Linked DNA regions of Homo sapiens. The protein of the gene in region 3 purifies or fractionates together with the protein of the main gene of each other region. This does not show direct contact. Each region holds a gene or a part of one and is shown on either strand. Other genes may lie near its edges.

Evidence for each region.
Region 1: the proteins of MSLN (region 3) and RALA fractionate together in Homo sapiens (co-fractionation; one large-scale study listed by BioGRID). This does not show direct contact.
Region 2: the proteins of MSLN (region 3) and MRPL1 fractionate together in Homo sapiens (co-fractionation; one large-scale study listed by BioGRID). This does not show direct contact.
Region 4: the proteins of MSLN (region 3) and ZBTB43 fractionate together in Homo sapiens (co-fractionation; one large-scale study listed by BioGRID). This does not show direct contact.

The regions. Positions count from the first base shown.
Region 1 is NC_000007.14:39,689,572-39,693,071, reverse strand, and holds part of RALA (ras-related protein Ral-A precursor), read right to left. Parts: intron 2,691-3,500; coding exon 2,482-2,690; intron 1-2,481. UniProt on the Homo sapiens protein: Multifunctional GTPase involved in a variety of cellular processes including gene expression, cell migration, cell proliferation, oncogenic transformation and membrane trafficking.
Region 2 is NC_000004.12:77,879,830-77,883,329, forward strand, and holds part of MRPL1 (large ribosomal subunit protein uL1m precursor), read left to right. Parts: intron 1-3,412; coding exon 3,413-3,500.
Region 3 is NC_000016.10:766,548-769,362, forward strand, and holds the end of MSLN (mesothelin isoform 1 preproprotein), read left to right. Parts: intron 1-96; coding exon of another isoform or gene 97-120; coding exon 121-263; intron 264-337; coding exon 338-465; intron 466-828; coding exon 829-923; intron 924-1,831; coding exon 1,832-2,018; intron 2,019-2,100; coding exon 2,101-2,186; 3' UTR 2,187-2,315; downstream 2,316-2,815. UniProt on the Homo sapiens protein: Membrane-anchored forms may play a role in cellular adhesion. Megakaryocyte-potentiating factor (MPF) potentiates megakaryocyte colony formation in vitro.
Region 4 is NC_000009.12:126,829,040-126,832,539, reverse strand, and holds part of ZBTB43 (zinc finger and BTB domain-containing protein 43), read right to left. Parts: intron 54-3,500; 5' UTR 31-53; coding exon 1-30. UniProt on the Homo sapiens protein: May be involved in transcriptional regulation.

The sequences.
Region 1 (3,500 bases), on a different chromosome or scaffold from region 3:
ATACCCAGTAATGGGATCGCTGGGTCAAATGGTATTTCTATTCTAGATCCTTGAGGAATCGCCACACTGTCTTCCACAATGGTTAAACTAATTTACACTCTCACCAACAGTGTAAAAGCATTCCTATTTCTCCACATCCTCTCCAGCATCTGTTGTTTCCTGACTTTCTAATGATCGCCACTGAATGAAGCTGTTAACAACAACTAACCTGCCACTCAGTCTCACCACTTGGAAGGTGAGACTGACTCAGGTGTTTGTAACTCTAGCACCTCTGGTCATATGTGTGTATATATAGTCATTAATTTATTTCTTAATAAATACCTACTAAGCTACTCTGAGTCAGGTGCTGCAGGGAAACCAATACTGAAAAAGCATAGTGTGATTGATGCTGGCAGAAACACGGCTGTAGAAAACCTGGACCTACTGGGTTCCGAGGTGAGAAGATGTTATTTTTTTAGAGTTAATAGATTGGTTTTACTAGCAACTTTGCTGGATGTCAGAGAAAAGTAATTCTACGGTATAAACTTCATATACATTTTGCTTAATATAATACTCCCTTTAAATACAGTTTTAGAGGCTATTACAGAATTTCAGAATAGGGAAGTACAATCTGGTCCAACTTCATTTTTGACATAGGAAAGTAAAAACCAAAAGGTAAAGGTTTTTGAATCAAGACAAATGTTTACTAAACATGTACTTACTATAGATTATATGCTATGAACTATGGCATATATAGGTACTGGGGATACTGAGACAGGAAAGGAATAGGTGTTAAGTGTGATACTGGAGCTGCAGCAAGGACATTGCATATATAGACGAGGAAGCAATGGATTTTGTGGATCACAGAGATGACCAGGAAGGCTAAAGGGAGGAGCTGATATTTATGCTACTGTTTTATTTATTTTTGCTACTCTTGCAGTTTAGACCACGTGGAGTGCCCACTGTAACCATTCAGACCTTTTCAAAAAAGCCTTTCACCAACAATATTGTTGGTGAGTCACTAGGGTCATTTTTATTTATGGCAGAGGCATTGGAGGTACGCCCTAAGAGTAATGAATCATCCTTATTTTCTATAATAGTAATAGCCCAAGATTCTTGCATGAAAATACCTTATTCTCTTGAAATATCACTTTGACTTTGGTGACTATGGTGATAACATTTATTCCATTACTTAGAACAAGACTTGCTACATTATAAGCACTCAAATATCTGCTGAATGAATAAGCATTGGCATTTATATAACTTTCAACATGTCTCCCACAATTACAAGCTACCAGAGTCTGCCATCCCTTGCATGTCATCATATATGAAATTTCTTCCTCATAGAAACCAACAAACTTTATGAATAAATCTATACTTCAGAGTTTCTCAATTACCTGCTTTTTGCAAAGAATGCTCTCTTAGAATAAGTTCTTGAGATTTTCAAGTGTGCATAAAAAGGAATGCTCTGTAAAAGCCTTGGTTTAGTTTTTTGCTCACCCACCTGAAATGCCCTCTTTCCTTATGTGTGAAAATCCTTCTTTTCTTCAAGCTCATCTATTTCATGAAGGTTTCCCAGCTTCTTTCCCCTCCCGGATCCTCTGCACTAACCACTGCCCATGTTCCTACTTTGTCACTAACTTGCTCTTGGTTAAATGCCTTATATATTCATCTAGGCTGTGTGAATCTTGAAAATAGAGGATACATTGCATGCTTCTTTTCTGTCCTCCATAATCAAGTAAGACACTTCACACAGAAATAAAAATATGTATCATTTAATTAAAGAACACTTGATTTATGCATGTAGTATTTGCAAGACCACGCAAGAACTCTATGCCAAATACCTCTTAAATATAGAGGAGCACCTCTTTCCCCTTCACCAAAACCACCTCCTCTAAAACCAAATGGATTCCAGATTTTAATTAAACAATAAATAATAAAAAATATTATATAACAATCTAATGTGCCCATCTACAGAGATATTATTTCTATTAAAAATTCATTCATTCTGAAGGTTCCCATGTAATAAGAAAAAGAAACAAAAAATTCAGTCTGTGCTATCAGGGCATCTATATTTTGAGGAGGATGGCAACGTGCCTACTGAGCATTACATAGGTGCTAAGAAACCATGACTAACAGAGAAAGATGTAAAACCTGAGTAAGCTCCATTATGTGCTCTAAGTATGAACTGTTATGGCAGTAGTAGTTTACACTAAAGAGAAATACTTCAGTAACTCATAGAGACTCTGGGTAACTGAAGCTGTCACAAAATCAAACTCCAATACAGGTGACACCGGGAGAGCTGTAAGACTATGCAAAGTATCCTAACTGTGTGTACATAACACAGTAGAGAGAGTCATATACTGATATCAAAAAGGGAATAAACACAATTAGAGACAGAGTAAAAGACTAACAAGTTAGAACCTCTAGTTGTCTACTTGTTTCTGGGGAAGAAATTGTTGTATAGTATGTCACAAGCAACAACATTACTCTAGGACATACCTGAAGTCAGCTGTAGCTGCAAAGGATTCCATTTCTGTAATAGAGAAAACACAGAGGAACCCCTCCCCACTTCGGAAGTAGTTGTCTCTAATTGCAGCGTAGTCCTCCTGCCCAGCTGTATCTAAGATATCGATCTGGACTTCCTCCCCATCTAGCACTACCTTCTTCCGATAGCTGTCTGCTTTGGTAGGCTCATAGTCCTCCACAAACTAGAAAAGATAAAAACACACCAATTTTTTAATTATTACGTTTCAAAACTTATTTTGAAATAATTATAAATTCATGTGAAGCTGCCAAAATAGTACAAGAAGAGTTCTGTATACCCTTTGCCCAGATTCCTCCAATGGTAAAAACTACACTAATTTTAATTTTAGACAATTTCTTGGTTTCCTCATTTGCAAACAGAGAGGGCTGAGTTATTACCTCTAGGCTGTTTACAGCTTGAAAACAGCTTTTCTTCCTTAAAACACAATACCTGCAAAAACTATTACACATATATTTTACCAAATTTATAATAGTCTTTTTTCTATGTAACTCTGAATATAAATTTTCATGCTAGAACTGTGGAAATAACTTAAAGGTCAATATTTTGGTAAGCACTGAAAGTATCATTAAATCCTTTCTTTTTCTAAAATGAACTAAGTCAATAAAGTGATTTACACTACTCAACAGAAAGTCAAATCTTAAACTTTATGAGACTTCTTCCCAAACTTTTGATTTTTTAAATAGTACAATTCAACAACTTTACATTCCCACTCCTATCGTCAGCCCCATAAATCTCACTTTAATATACCTTGATAAACCGTAGGCAGGCAGATGATAAGTATGTGTATATGTACGCAGACAAGGCCTTACTATGTTGCCCAGGCTGGTCTTGAACTCCTGGGCTCAAATAATCCTACTGCCTTGGTCTCCCAAAGTGTTGGGATCACAGGTGTGAGCCACCAGGCCCGGCCTATCTTTTGATATCATTGTTAGCATGTATTCATTTACACACAGACATTTGTGGGTTTTTTATT
Region 2 (3,500 bases), on a different chromosome or scaffold from region 3:
GTCATCAGTCCAGAAGGACACCTGTGCCCCATTGAAAATGAGCATTGTCATTATCTAATATTCTGTTGAATTGCTCATTAGCTGGGAGGGTACTATTATTAGTGGTGGTAGTAAGGATTTACTGAGTACTAAAAGTGAGAATGGAATTATACGTTGAATTGGTTTTTGAGGTCTTTTTTAAAAAACTGTTTTATTATCATCCATTTCTTTCACATCAGTTTTATAGGACTTCATATTCATTTTCTTCCATAACAAATTGCCATCTCTGCCATAACAAATTACCACAAACTTTGAGGCTTAAAACTATACAAGTTTTTCATTTCACAGTTCAGTAGGCGAGTAGTCTGACATGGATCTCACTGGGCTAAAATCAAGGTATTGGCAGTTTATTTTCTGGAGGCTCTAGGGGATAATCCATTTCCTTGCAATCCCCAGCTTCAAGAGGCCACCCACATTCTTTAGCTCATGGCCCTCATCCTTCATCTTCAAAGCAATGGCTGGTTGCTTGAATTTCTTCAGTGTCATTTTCCCATATCTGTGTGATGCAGTTGGGAAGGGGAAAAGACTCTCACTTTTAAGGATGCATGTGATTAGATTGGGCCCACGTAGATAATCTAGGATAACTCTCCATCTCAAGGTCTTTAACCTTATCTCGTCTGCAAGGTCTTTTTTTTTTTTTTTTTGCCATGTAAGGTAATATATTCACAAGATTTGGGAATTAGGATATGGGTCTCTTTGAGGCATTATTATTCTGACTACCACAGAACCGGAACATCTTTCCAGAATACTATTACACTAATTTAAAACTTTTATGGTTAGAAGAGTACAGACATGATCTGAATTAATGCTGAGAAAATTACATCACCTCTAGTTCTTTTTATCTTCAAATTCTTATCTGCCATTACCTGGTAAATATATTTTCTTAGATATTTTGTAAGCACCTTGTTAGCTTTTGCTATGTAACAAACCACTCCACAATTATTTATCATTGCCCACATATCTATGGGTCAGCTGACATAGGCTGGGTTTGATGGATATCTCTGATGACCTTGGCTGGACTTGTAGTGCATCTGTAAGTTTGCAGGTAAGCTGAGAATCATCTCATGTAGCCTGGGGCTCTGTGGAGGCAGCTCTGTTCCACATGTTTCTCATCCTTCTACCTTTGAGCTAGCCTAGGCATGTTCTTCTAATGAAAAGGCAGAAATGCAAACATGAAAGTAGAAACATGTGAAACTTCTTTTGGCCTAAGCATAGAGCAGGGAAACTGTCATCTTTGCTTTATTCTGTCAGCCAAAAGTAGTCACATGGACAAATAAAGGGGCTGGGAAATATACTCCTCTTTAGTGGGAGGAACAGCAAAGTCATTTAGCAAAGGGCTTGAATGGAAAGGAGGTAAAGAATTGGGACCAATGATACAATTGACCCATACTCAAACTTCATATCCCCCAAACTTGAACTAATCTCTGTGACTGCCTCCCTCACCAGAAACCTGTTTTGCCCTCTTTATTTCTGATCTTAGTTAATGATTCTATTCTATGCCTAGTCACCCAAGCTAGATACCTAGGAAGTATTTTGGAGTCTTTATTCTCTCCTTTTCCCATCTTCAATATTTACTTTTTTTTTTTTTTTTTTTGAGACAGGGTCTCACTCTGTCACCTACCTGGAGTGCACTGACATAATCAGCTCACTGCAGTCTCAGACTCCTGAGCTCAGGTGATCCTTCCAAATCAGCCTCCTAAGTAGCTGGGACCACAGGTGTGTACCACTATGCCCAGCTAATTTTTTTGATTTGGTAGAGGCAGGGTCTTGCTATATTGCCCAGGCTGGTCTTGAACTCCTGGCCTCAAACAGTCCTCCTGCCTTGGCCTCCCAAAGTGCTGGAATTGCAGGCGTGAGCCCTCGTGCTTGGCCCAGTATTTAGCTTGACAAGTATTCTCTAATCTGCCATCTTTTCCAGTCTTATTACTGTTGCTACTCTGGTTCAGGTTCTCATATCTCTGAGAAGAAAGGGCGGGAACAGACTCTTAATTGTTTTCAATCCTACTTCCTTCAGGTCTCTCTCTTATATTGCAGCCAGAATACCTTGCCTAAAATACAGATGTTACTCCTGTTTACTGACTTCTTATTGCCTCTAGAGGATGCCCCCCTATGCTCTGTCTTTTCTAACCTCATCTTCCACTCTTGCCTGCCTTCTCTTTTACCGTTTTAGTTCAGAAGTCAGCAAACTTTGGCGAGTCAGCCAATCTTGTTTACCGACTATATTTGCACTACAGTGGCAGCGTTGAGTCATTGCAGCAGAGAACATATGGCTCACAAAGCTAAAACATTTACTATCTGGTCCTTTACAGAAAAAGTTTGCCAACTCTGCTCTAGTCATGTAGAACTTATAATAGCTTCCTTCTTATACCATTTTATTTTGTGCCTCAGTACTTTTTATTACGTTGTTTCTTTACCTGGCTAACTCTATTATTTTTTAAATAATGGCTTTATTAAGGTATCATATAATTACATATCACACAATTCACCCATTTAAAGTGTACAGTTCATTGGTTGTTAGTATACTCACAGTTGTGCAGCCATCACTGTAATCAGTTTTAGAGCATTTTCATTGCTTTCCCAGAGAACCCCATGCCCATGAGCATTCACTTCTTGTTCCCCTAACCTCCTCTTCTAGCACTAGACAACCACCAGATCTACTTTTTAGTCTCTTAGGTTTGCTCATTCTTGATATTTGGTATAAATGGAATAATATGTGGGCTTTTGTGACTGGCTTCTTTCACTTAGCTTAATGTTTTTAGGGTTCATGCGTGTTGTAGCATTGATCAATATTTCATTCTTTTATTAATTGTTGATTAATATTCCATTATATGGACATACCACATTTTATGTATCCATTCATCAGTTGATAGACATTTGGGTTGTTTCTACTTTTTGGCTGTTATGAATAATGCTGCTAAGAACATTTGTGTACTAGATTTTGTGTCATATGTTTTCACTTCTTTGGGGTGCTAACACTTCCTTATCCATTAAGAATTGACTTTGAGGTCATTTCCTCTATAACTTTTCCCTAGCCTCCTAGGCTGGATTGAATGTCTTTTCTGTCAGGCTCTGATGATGCTCTTGTATTACTACATTATATTGAAATGACCTGTTAGTATGTCTTTCTGATCTACTCCTCTGTAAGTTTCTGGAGAGCAGCATCAGTGCGGTAATTCAACTTATTCATGACTTCAGACATTGGAAAAGTTCACTTCATGTTTGTTGAATTAGAAAAACTGTAAAGCAGTCTATGCTTTTGAATTAAAATATAATTCATCCTTTGTTTTTTTTTCTCTTATGTACACTGGCTTTTTTTTTAAAAAAAATCTCTTAGGATATATATTGATATAACTCAACTTTATTTTCTTTTAAGGTCTGCAAAGAAAACAAAAAAAGGTGCTAAAGAAAAAACACCAGATGAGAAAAAAGATGAAATAGAAAAAATAAAAGCATATCCCTAT
Region 3 (2,815 bases):
GTGGGGGACAAAGCCTGAGGTTGGGCGGGCCTGGGGTCAGGGGCACGGCCTGAGGTTATGCTGGTGGTGGAGGGATACATCTCTCCTTGCCACAAGGCTCCTCGGCGGCCCCTCCCACAGGTGGCCACCCTGATCGACCGCTTTGTGAAGGGAAGGGGCCAGCTAGACAAAGACACCCTAGACACCCTGACCGCCTTCTACCCTGGGTACCTGTGCTCCCTCAGCCCCGAGGAGCTGAGCTCCGTGCCCCCCAGCAGCATCTGGTGAGTCCCCAGAACTCTGCCCGGCAAGGTGGGTCCGTGTGCTGGCGCTCACTGTCCACCCACCGTGTCCCCAGGGCGGTCAGGCCCCAGGACCTGGACACGTGTGACCCAAGGCAGCTGGACGTCCTCTATCCCAAGGCCCGCCTTGCTTTCCAGAACATGAACGGGTCCGAATACTTCGTGAAGATCCAGTCCTTCCTGGGTGAGCCAGGGAGTCCCTGGCCAGGGTGGGCAACACAACGGGGGAAGCACAGACTCCACTCGGGGGTGCCAGGCCTTTGCCTCGCCGGGCCGTCTGCTGCCAGGGTAACTGGGTGGTCACCCGCCCTCTGCCCCCCGGGGTGTGTATGGCCTTAGGGGCTGTGGGTTCTGACCCCAGCTCGGGGCGCCAGCCACCTCCAGGGTCTCCCACGCCTGGGGGTCAGGCGGCTAGGCAAACCCAGGCCCTGGAATCCCTAAGGAAAAAGGGAAGCCCTGTAAGGCAAGTGGGCTTCCTGCAGCCTGTGGTCAAGGGCCTGGGGGTGTGAGGTGAGGCCTCAGCTCGGGCCCCTCTCCCGGCGGGCAGGTGGGGCCCCCACGGAGGATTTGAAGGCGCTCAGTCAGCAGAATGTGAGCATGGACTTGGCCACGTTCATGAAGCTGCGGACGGATGCGGTGCTGGTATGGCGAGCGGGAGGAGGGGCGTGTGGAGGAGGGGCCCGTGGAGGAGGGGCGAGTGGGAGGAGGGGCGCGTGGAGGGGGGGCGTGTGGGGGGGTGCGTGGAGGAGGGGCGCGTGGAGGAGGGGCGCGTGGAGGGGGGAGCGTGGGGGGCGTGGAGGAGGGGCGCGTGGAGGAGGGGCGCGTGGAGGGGGGAGCGTGGGGGGCGTGGAGGAGGGGCGCGTGGAGGGGGGAGTGTGGGGGGGCGTGGAGGAGGAGGGGCGCATGGGGGGGTGTGGAGGGGGGCGCGTGGAGGAGGGGCGCGTGGAGGGGGGAGCGTGGGGGGCGTGGAGGAGGGGCGCGTGGAGGGGGGCGCGTGGGGGGGGCGCATGGGGGGGCGTGGAGGGGGGTGCGTGGAGGAGGGGCGCGTGGAGGAGGAGGGGCGCATGGGGGGGTGTGGAGGGGGGCGCGTGGAGGGGGCACGTGGAGGGGTCGCGTGGAGGAGGGGCGCGTGGAGGGGGCCGTGTGGGGGGGCGTGGAGGGGGGCGCGTGGAGGAGGAGGGGCGCATGGGGGGGTGTGGAGGGGGGCGCGTGGAGGGGGCGCGTGGAGGAGGGGCACATGGAGGGGGGGGCAAGTGGAGAAGCCCTGGTGGAGGGGCGCATGGAGGAGGGGCCAACGGGGGGTGGGAGGGCGTGTAAGGCGGGTCTGCAGTGGGGCGAGGCCTTAGGAAGGGCAGCATCTTCCCGTGTGGTGGGGCCTAGGGAAGGGCAGCCATTGAGCTGAGGTCAGCTGGCCGGAGACCTCCGAAGTCTGGAGAGGCTGCGGTGGGCATCTGTGGGTGGGGCAGTTTGGACACAGGAGAGCCTGGCAGCCCTCTGGCGGCGCTGAGGGAAGGAGACCCTCCTTGATGGCTGCCCGGGGTCTCTGGCAGCCGTTGACTGTGGCTGAGGTGCAGAAACTTCTGGGACCCCACGTGGAGGGCCTGAAGGCGGAGGAGCGGCACCGCCCGGTGCGGGACTGGATCCTACGGCAGCGGCAGGACGACCTGGACACGCTGGGGCTGGGGCTACAGGGCGGCATCCCCAACGGCTACCTGGTCCTAGACCTCAGCATGCAAGGTGGGCGGGGCGGCCAGGCCAGGGCTGGGGGCAGAGCTGGGGGCGTGGAGGTGGGCGCTCTGAGTCACCCCTCTCTCTGTAGAGGCCCTCTCGGGGACGCCCTGCCTCCTAGGACCTGGACCTGTTCTCACCGTCCTGGCACTGCTCCTAGCCTCCACCCTGGCCTGAGGGCCCCACTCCCTTGCTGGCCCCAGCCCTGCTGGGGATCCCCGCCTGGCCAGGAGCAGGCACGGGTGGTCCCCGTTCCACCCCAAGAGAACTCGCGCTCAGTAAACGGGAACATGCCCCCTGCAGACACGTCTTGTGGCCTCCGAGGACTTTCTGTGACCCCACCAGCGTGGCCCCTCTCCCTCTGGTCTTGCGCCCCCAGGCCAGGTGGGGGCCCTTGGAGGTCTTCCTGACCCTGCTGCCACTGTGCTGAGGGCCAGGCCAGCACTCAGGGTGGCCCCAGGAGCCGGTGGTGGGAGTCCTGTGCCCCTGTCCCCACAGGCTTGGCCCCGGCTAGGACATTCCCGGGCCCCCCTGCTCAGGCCCTGAGCACAGACACAGGCAGGACCACGACCGTGGACTTTATTCATGTCCAGCAGTGAAGTCTGTGGCCCCGGCCCCGGCCCCGGCCCCGGCCCCAGCCCCAACCCCAACCCCAACCCCGGCCCCGGCCCCGGCCCCGGCCCCAGCCCCAGCCCCAGCCCCAGCCCCAGCCCTCCGCAGGGCCCGGGCAGCGTCTTCCGTGGCCCGCCTGGGCCTGTGGTTGTGCGGGAGGCACCTTCTTAGGGCCTGGTCCTCAGTCCAGCTCC
Region 4 (3,500 bases), on a different chromosome or scaffold from region 3:
TACCCGAAAAGAGTTTGTTCCAGGCTCCATTTCATCACAAATCTTGTTCGGTGCTACAAGAGAAAGAAAAATTAGTACAAATTCCAGCCCAAAGATAAACTTATTTTATCCCCTCCTCCATTGTTAAGACAAGTTCCAAAGTTCCACAAAGTCCTCTAGCCTATGGGCCCCACTGGGTAAGGGATTCAATCCCTAGAGCAAAGCTTGCAGGTGCGTGTTTGCCAAAGGCAGGACTCACCACCACTCCTTGTGGAACTCCTGATTTTGGTTCTGTGTCTGTGGGTAAGAGAACTGAATCCATAGGGACAAGATTTGTAAGCTATACAAATCTCCCAAGTAAAACCAAGTACTGTAAATATTTACAGTTAAAACAAACAAGATACCCATTCAAATAATATAATTTTTTTTTAAACGAGATGGGGTCTTGCTCTGTTGCCCAGGCTGGAGTGCAGTGGCACAATCATAGTTCACTGCAGCCTTGAACTCTTGGGTAATCAAGCTATCATCCTGCTTCAGCCTCCTGAGTAGCTGGGACTGTATGTACATGCCACCATGTCCAGCTAGTTTTTTTTTTTTTTTTTGAGATAGAGTTTTGCTCTTGTTGCCCAGGCTGGAGTGCAATGGTGTGATCTCGGCTCACTGCCACCTCCACCTTCTGGTTTCGAGCGATTCTCCTGCCTTGGCCTCCCAAGTAGCTGGGATTATAGGCGCCCGCCACTACACCTGGTTAATTTTTTTTTTTTGTATTTTTAGTAGAGATGGGGTTTCACTATGTTGGCCAGGCTGGTCTCGAACTCCTGACCGCATGATCCACCCACCTCAGCCTCCCAAAGTGCTGGGATTACAGGTGTGAGCCACCACGCCAGCTGCCCAGCTAGTTTTTTTAAAAAATTAATTTTTTTTGTAGAGACAGGGGTCTCACTTTTTGCCCAGGTTCGTCTTGAATTCCTGGCTTCAAGTGATCCACCAGCCTCAGCCTCCTAAAGTGTTGGGATTATAGGCATGAACCACCGCTCCTGGCAGAATTTTTTTTTAAAGAGATGAGGTCTCACTCTTTTACCCAGGCTGGAGTGTAGTGGCACCATCATAGCTACTGTAGTCTCAAACTCCTGGGCTCAGGTGATCCTCTCACCTCAGCCTCTTGTGTAGCTGGGTCTATGGGTATATACCACTATGCCCAGCTCAAAATGACAGAACTTTTAAGCCTCAGATTTAACTGATATTTGACAGGTTGTGGTGAGGGTGGGAGAACAGAATGGTGGGAACAAGGAAAAGCATACGCAAAGGCTCCGAGGCAGGAATGCATTTGGCAATTGCAAGGAACTGAAAGGAGACCATTAGACTAGAGTACAGTCAGGGAGTGAGGGGCCTGGGGGCTTGAGCAGTGAGGACGGGACAATTGCACCTCTGGTCTTTCAGCACTAAAGGGGCACAGTCACTCAGGCCCTGAGCAATGCAGATTTCTCCAGCTGCTGCCAGAATTTTAGCCCTTTAAGAGCTTCTGAGAATATGAAACTGAATGAAACTGCAAGGTGAGGTATGCTTCTTATCTGGTGATCTCCAAACTGTCTATAGACCAAAGAGGATAGTAAGTCCCTGCTACTGAACAGAGTCGATCAGAAGACAAAGTTATAACGAAGACTAAGGCATTGCCTGTGTTGCTACTGTAAATATATTCTGTGGGGTAAGTCAAGCATTAGAAACAATTCCTAACAATGGCACACAAGATGAGCTGTGCTAGAGATCCTGCCCATACTCTGTAATTCCCCCAAATTCTGTAATTAAAGCAAAAAAAAAAAAACCACCCAAACGATTTATTACTGCATATGTCACCTTGCTCTGATACTACATCCAAACATTGCTAAATTACCAAGTCTTCTTTTGTTTTTTTGAGACAGGGTCTCACTCTTGTCACCCAGGCTGGAGTACAGTGGTGTGATCACAGCTCACTGCAGTCTCAAACTCCTGGGCTCAGGTGATCCTCCCATCTCAGCCTCCTGAGTAGCTGGGACTTCAGGCATGCACTACTACCACATCCGGCTAATTTTTGTATTTTTTGCAGAGACAGGGTTTCGCCACGTTGTCCAGGCTGGTCTCGAATTCCTGAACTCAAGCGATCTGCCCGCCTGGCCTCCCAAAGTGCTGGAATGACAGGCGTGAGCCACTGCGCCCAGCCCCAAGTTTTCTAAGTATGATATAAAAGAGCCAGACAACCCAGACAAAGACTGAAAGTCATCTTCGAGGGATAGGGAGAGATGACAAGAGAAGAAATGAAGGTTTCTTGAGTAATTATGATATGTTAGGGACTGATACCTTTTTTCCCACTTAATCTTTATAATTACTCTGCAAATGTAGGGCTTGATCGTCTGAAGTTCAGCTATTTTAAGTAACTTTCCCAAGGTTAAAAGCTAGTTTTTATTAAGTTGAGATGTGAATCCAGGTCTGGATGACTCTAAAGTCTATGTGATTTTTCTTATCACATCACTCTGCCTCCTCTAAGATGCCAAAAATGCCAGATTAGGCACTAATAATTTTAAAAGACTGTGTTTTTAGAGTGAAGTATTAATTTATCGTTTTATACATCTTAAAACATTTCATAGTAATTTAAAACAAAAATAGATCATGAAATAAATGATTTAGGTATTCGTAATTTCAAAAAGAAAAGTTGACTATATAAATGAGTAGACTAAAAGTATGTAAATTCTGGAAACTACATCTGGGTGAACAGATTCTCTGCTAGATCTCACCACTGTAGAATTTTGCTTTTAGCTATTTGAAAAAGGGGGTGTGGGATATAACACATGCACATGTAAAAAAAAATTATAGAAAGGTGTAAAAAAAAAAAATCTCTCCCATCATTTATTCCTAGTCTCCCCCAAAGGAAATCACCATTAAACTCCTGTTTATATCTCTAGAAACTTCCCTGTGCATATATCAGAATAAATCATATACATCCTTTAAAAATCCCTACTCAACTGGGTTCATTACCTACATTTTATTCTACACTTAGCTTTTGTCACTTAATATATCTTGGAGATCTTCCCACATTAGCACAAAAAGAGCTAACTCATTCTGTTTAATGGCCACATAGCTTTCTATTATATGGATGTATCGTAATGTAAGCAGTTCTCCTCTTACAGAATTTCAGTTGGCAGGGGTTGTAAAATCACAAGCAATGCTACAATAGATATTTTTGCATAACTATCTTGCATACCTTTGGAAATATTTATAGCTTAATTTCTACCAGTGGAACTGCTGGGTTAAGGGGCTGTGCATTTGACATAGCCTTGAACTCTTGGGTCATCAAGCAATCCTTCTGCCTCAGCCTCTCAAGCAGCTGGGTCTATAGGCATGCCACCATGCCTGGCTAATGTTTTTAAAAAATTTTCTGATACATATTACCAAACTACTTGCCAGAAAGCCTGCACCAAGTCACACCCTCACCAACAATCAATGACAGTGTCTACTTAGCACACTCTTACAAGACTGGATATCATTTA